Regions from separate parts of the Homo sapiens genome. Here region 2 is linked to region 1. Evidence: fine-mapped expression QTL. A gene starts in region 1. The other region holds a variant in brackets. All regions are shown on one strand. Distances are from middle to middle.

Region 1 (2,919 bases):
ACTTATACAGTATTTTAGCACTGTTGGTTCAAAATGTTTTTAGATTACACGTTTTTAACAGTTTGGCAATTTATGTGTCATTTCCTCCATTGATATTAACAAACCATCGAAAATATTAATGAGTCTAAACATATGACAAATATTAGATGCCAATATACAATGTTTGTGCTTCATTCTATATAAAAATGTGATGAGTCTTGTCTCATTTAACATGTAAACCGGAGGTTAACTTCTCATAAACTCTGGAAACGCTTAAAGAAAAAAAGCAAAAATTATTTTAAAGCCAGAAATGTTTTCCTTAAGAGCTGCCCATCTAAATGTGCTCCAAATTTTCAAATGGAGCCGCAACACTGGAATAACGAGTTTTGAAACACAATCCGGTAACACATTAACATGTCAAACCAGTTGACTGTACTTAAAACACCTATCTAGTTGCATTTGAAAGTCGTTTTGGTCTCTGAAAGCTCCAAAAAAAAAAAAAAAAAGCTAGGAAGTGACTAGTAGGTGCAGTATAACAAAGCTGAGGAAGATCTTCCTTTCATGAGACCTGACTTGACACAAACTTGGGTATTCCTGGGGTCAGTCTTTTCCTTCCTGAGACTTTTGGAGGCCAAGTCCAGAACCGACCCACCCCTGACCCCATCCAAGGGTACCATGATTATCCCTTAGCAGAACATGGAATATTTTCGGAGTGTCGTAAGTGTATGGATAGTTTTACGGTACAACGTCTACATAGTGGGAGAGGGCAACAGAGGGTTAGAGGTTAGAACTGAAAGGTAAAAAAATGCAAGAAATTTAGGAAATCCAAGAGACAGACTGCCAATTAAAGTCACTAAAATGGGTCTCCAATTACACCGTAAAGCAGGGCCCTGGGAGAAGAGGAAAGAGTTTTTGTTATTTCCAAAATTTATAGGTGGGTGATTGCATTAGCAGCGGAGCAGCCGAGGTGGGGCCCTGACCAGGCACACGGATGAATGAAGGGATGTCCGCGACCTGATCTGAGAAACAAGAGTAGAAGCCTCGCGATATTTCATTCCCACCTCGCTCGCAACTAAGCCCAACCTTCTGGCAGTCCAAAGCCCTACGCGCTGACAGAAATAACCTCCTTAGCAGAAATGCACTGGTCTCGTTCCCTGCAGGGCATCAGAGCCCAGAGGGTGAGTGATCCGGGCAGGCTGCCCTAGGCTCCTTTCCCGCGTCCCAAACTACATCCCCTGCCTCGCCTCGGCCCCAAACGTCCTCCCTTCCACACACACCCTCCCTGGGCCCCGCTCCGGGGTGTGGAGAGCACTGCCGCCTCCTTATTACCGACCTCAGAGCTAAACTCATTATCTCTTCGCACAGAGACGTTCCTCTCAAGAACGATTTTAACCCCCTACCCAAGGCAGCAAGACGCCCACAGCCGTTCAACAGACACGAACGACCTCAGCGGCCTCAGGGACCTCCCACAACATAGACACTTTTGAGCTGGATTGGTTGAAATGTCGCTATGGTTCTGCCTATTAGGGGGCGGAAGCTTTACCAGTTCTATTTTCATTGGGTAGGTTTTACGTCAATCAAGGAAAAAAAAATTTTTTTTCTGTGCCCCGCCCACCTCCTAACGCCCCCCCGCCCCCCCAATCTAGGGCCGCTCTCGCCCTTCGGATTGGCTCGATGCGTTTTTCCCCGAATCCTTTGCGGGTCCGGCCTCCGATCCCTGTGTGGCTGTTTGGCGGGTGGGCGCTGTGTTCCTCTCTCGTAAAGCCGTGCGGTCTGTGGGCCGCCATTCAGAAACTGGATGGACAGCTTCGGCGGTGGGAAGGGAAGGGACATGCTGCAGGCCACCCTCCGGCTAGAAGGAGGGAGTACTTGAGGAACAAGGTCTGCGAAAATTGGCTGTGCTCTGTTCTAAAACTTGGAATGGCCTCAGTACCTGGGGAATGTGTTTAAAATGCAGACTTAAATGTCCGTTTCTCCATTCTAATTTCAGTAGGTATGAATCTGCGTTTTTACTCCTCACAAGCCTTCCAAGTGATTCTGAGGCAGGTGCTGTGGCTGTACTTGGATTATCACAGGGTTAGATTATCAGGCTATTTATGATTTAGCTGTATCTAAACCACCTTTCCCTCTCTTTCCTCCTTTGAACTGTTTGAAACGGATTTGTTCCCTTCTGTCTCTTATTTTTCAGTGCTGTAAGCTGTTAACACACATGAGACTGTCTTCACTACCAAACCAAGTCTCCTAAAGCTCACTTGAATGTCTGCTTATTCGTGTCTCTTACTAGGTTCAATTTCTTGGAGGCCGTGATTATATCTATTTAACGCTTTTCCTTGTACCTAATAAAATGTCTGGTGCGTAGGTGCTCGGTAAATTGAGTGGAATCTTTTGAAAATCCACAAAATACTGAGCTAAACAGCAAATCTCATAAACGTGAATAAAATAGCCTGAGGATGGGAGTTGAAGGCGGAGAATATATAAACATTATATGTTTAAGGGATGTATATAAAATTTTAGAGAAGGGAGAGAACACAAGATATGCTTCTTAAAGGAGGTGACATAAACGTTAGACCTAGAAGGATGGGCTAAATTTGCACAAGGAAAGATAGTATGATAGAATAAGCTAAAAATTAGCTAAGGGATAGCACCCCTAAAAAACAAAAGTGGAACTTTTATTTTGTTCGTATTTTAAATTTTAAAGTACCTTTATAAATCACCTTTGAGTCTAAAAGGAAAGAGAAATTGTAGTTACTAGAACATAATGATATTGAAAAAAACTATATGTTAAAATTTTAAGATACAGACCAAGTTATAGGAGAACATTATTTTAAATAAGAAAGAATAAAAATAGGCCAAGCATTTATTTGAAGATGTTAGAAACGAAGAACAAATTGTATAATTGAAATTAGGAAGAGGAAATTAGTAAAGATAAAGTTTGAGAAC
Region 2 (2,919 bases), 700 kb before region 1:
AAAAAAAACAATTAATATAATACATTGGACTCAAGCACTGTGGTAGAGGCCACCCTCAAGTGCTGTATGAGGACATATTGGAAGAACCTCAAAGAGAATTGCCTGCAAAAAGTAGCACATGAGCCAAAATCTGAAGACAACCAGAGTTATCCTGTTAAAGGGGCAAAAGGAAGTGTGGAGTTATGGGGCTGCATAGGTGGGCAGAGGACAGGTTACAAAATGGTTTATCATGCCACACTCAAAAATTTAGGGCTTTATCTCAAGATGATTAGAAGAAATTGAAGCATTTTCAAAAGGAGGATCAAAATCAGACATATTTAACACACATGAGTCTAGAAATTATTTGGAGAATTTTGAAAAGAGGAACATCACTTATAAGGCTGTTGGAAAAAGCAAACTATAAAATAAGAAGCCTGATGAAGAAAAGATGTTTGATGGAAAAGTAATTTGGGAATTATAATTGACAGAATTTCCTGGGGATTCGTTGTAGGGGATGACAAGGTAGTAGATAGAGTCGGGTATGATTCAAGAGAATGGAGGTGTCACCAACTGAGAGAGGGAAGAAGAGGAGCATGTTTATTGAAGGCTCTGAAAAATGAGAAATTCAATTTTGAACGTGATGCTCCTGAAGTGGCATAAGATAGCCAAGGGGGTATTTTGTAGGTGGTTATATATAAACACCAAGTTCTAGGCTGAATTTCAATCATCAACATCTATGTGATGGTGAAACCATGGATACAGGTGAAATCACCCAGATGATGAAGAGTTACAGAAATAGACTTCTGGGGGAACACCACCTTTTAACAGACCAGCAAAGGATGAAAAGGTCGTGAAGGAGACTGAATGTGTCCAGAGAGATAAAGGAAATCGAGAGAGAATGTGAATTGAATGCTAAGAAAAGAAAAGTTTCAAAATGTGAAGAGGGGTCAAGGTTAAATGTTGCAGATCAGTTGAATGTTGCAATGCTAAAGGTTTTAAAGAGAACTTTAAAAAGTATATTATTTTTGGCTGCAAATTCAGGGAGAGCTGTTTCAATGGCATGTAGGGAAGGACCAAAGTTGAAGTGGTTTGAATAACAAATGGGAAATACATGTATGATAGTGCAATTATTCGCTGTGTATCATGTCTTATATGCTCAATTAAACTACAAGTTTCTCAAAGGCAGTTTTTACATGTCTTTTCTATCCTATTTATGTTCCATTTTATATATGCATATATATTTACTTGTGTGTATAGGTATATATTTATTGTGTGCATAGACATGTACATATTGTAT[A/G]CATATATTATTTACATGTATATATATGTATTAACAAATGTGTATATTGTATTTATAATATACACAACAATGGTTGCAAAACCACCAATGACTGAGATTGATCTGACAAATATACAAATGAAGTTCCCTGGGCCTCCAAGCCTACTTTGGCAGCAGTGACATTTTTAATCACTGTTCTTCCTTTTTCCCCCTTATCTCCCAAGAAATATCCAGCCTGTTTTTCCCATAGTCTTGTGTGCACCAAGTGTGTAGCCTGCTGTTTCTCTTTGCTCCTAAACATTTATTTTCCTCCTTTGTATCTACATTTTCTTTCCTCCTCAGCTCAGATTATGAGCAGCCTGCCTTCAACAGCTGGCATTTATAGAGCTATAAGTTTCCATAACTTCTACAGGAGCTCTGCATGCATGCGCATGCCAAATGAAGCCCTCAAGCTATTCTGCAAATAATTTCTACAGTAAATTTTACTTGTAATGACCTGAAGTTGAGTTTGTATCCTTTAGGAAAAGCTATATCTTCTCACAGAGCCCACAAGTTCTCTCTTTGCAATGTTAAACCCAAATTTTACTGGTATAATTAGTATACATATGAAATTTATGGCACAAAAAATATAACTGATTAAAACAAATGGAATCATTTTAAGCAGCACTAAAGCACAAACATACTTTTGTTTAGAAAACCTCTTATTTTTCTTATGGTGTCTTTGGGCTTAGGGTTCCCTATAACTCCAATATGGTGTGTTTGGAGCTTCTATTATCTGTTTTGGCATTTCACACATGGAACACCTGCATGAGATAGGTTCCTTGACTCCACAAACAGCTTGCAGGATAAGAATTTATTTTTGAATGAGTCTTATTCATGCTGTTTAAATGAGAGGAGAAGTGCCACTAATAGTTTCTTTCAGTTTTGTAACTGGAATACTTTATAGTTTCATCTAACTTTTATTTCCCCCCATCTGCTTAAGTGACTTCATTCCTCTCAAGTTGAAAATGTCAAGGCTATTTACTAATACTATGTTAGAAGGTCTTGGTGCATTTTTTCCACCACCACCTTTTCCCCTGCCAACACTCTGCTTTTATTCTCACAGGTCTTTTATAAACCTTTCCTTTCCCACTGATATTCTCCAGTCTAAAACAGCTCCAAAAAAAAAAAAAAAAAAAAAAAAAAACAGTAACAAAGGAGGGGCTGGGCGCGGTGGCTTAGGGCCTGTAATCCCAGCACTTTGGGAGGCCGAGGCGGGTGGATCACCTGAGGTCCGGAGTTCGAGACCCACTTGACCAACATGGAGAAACCCCGTCTCTACTAAAAATACAAAATTAGCCGGGGGGTGGTGGCACATGCTTCTAATCCCAGCTACTCTGGAGGCTGAGACAGGAGAATGGCTTGAACCTGGGAGGCAAGAGGTTGCTGTGAGACGAGATTGCTCCATTGCACTCCAGCCTGGGCAACAAGAGCGAAACCCCATCTCAGAAAAAAAAAAAAAGTAACAAAGGAAGAATAAGAGTTGGAAGAATAAGGGGTAAAGTGAAGAGTGGAGAAGCAACTATTTTGCAAGGAGATATAATTTAAATTGCCTCAGTCACTGTTGTTGTATAAACCATTGAATCAATAACACTCCTCAAAGTCTAAACTTTCAAAATCTCTCC

Which allele goes with the higher level. Positions count from the first base shown, and alleles are read on the strand shown. Sizes are in standard deviations (SD) of each study's normalised expression.
With allele A in place of G in region 2, the expression in thyroid of the gene that starts at base 1,424 in region 1 is lower (small effect, 0.20 SD a copy in GTEx).

Evidence for each region.
Region 2: its variant is fine-mapped to the expression of CETN3 in thyroid (GTEx, PIP 0.95).

The regions. Positions count from the first base shown.
Region 1 is chr5:90,408,333-90,411,251 of GRCh38, forward strand. It overlaps CETN3 (centrin 3), which reads right to left and starts at 1,424. Exons shown (of 5, transcript NM_004365.4): 1 at 1,313-1,424. The coding sequence starts at 1,329. LOC731157 (a long non-coding RNA gene) reads left to right here and starts at 1,668. Exons shown (of 2, transcript NR_105024.1): 1 at 1,668-1,972; 2 at 2,168-2,337. RefSeq lists an enhancer at 1,194-1,393.
Region 2 is chr5:89,708,541-89,711,459 of GRCh38, forward strand. The region is part of intron 1 of LINC02161 (long intergenic non-protein coding RNA 2161); the gene reads left to right. Among named protein-coding and RNA genes, the nearest start is that of LINC02161, 130 kb to the left of the region's middle. The variant A/G (reference allele first, on the strand shown) is at 1,277.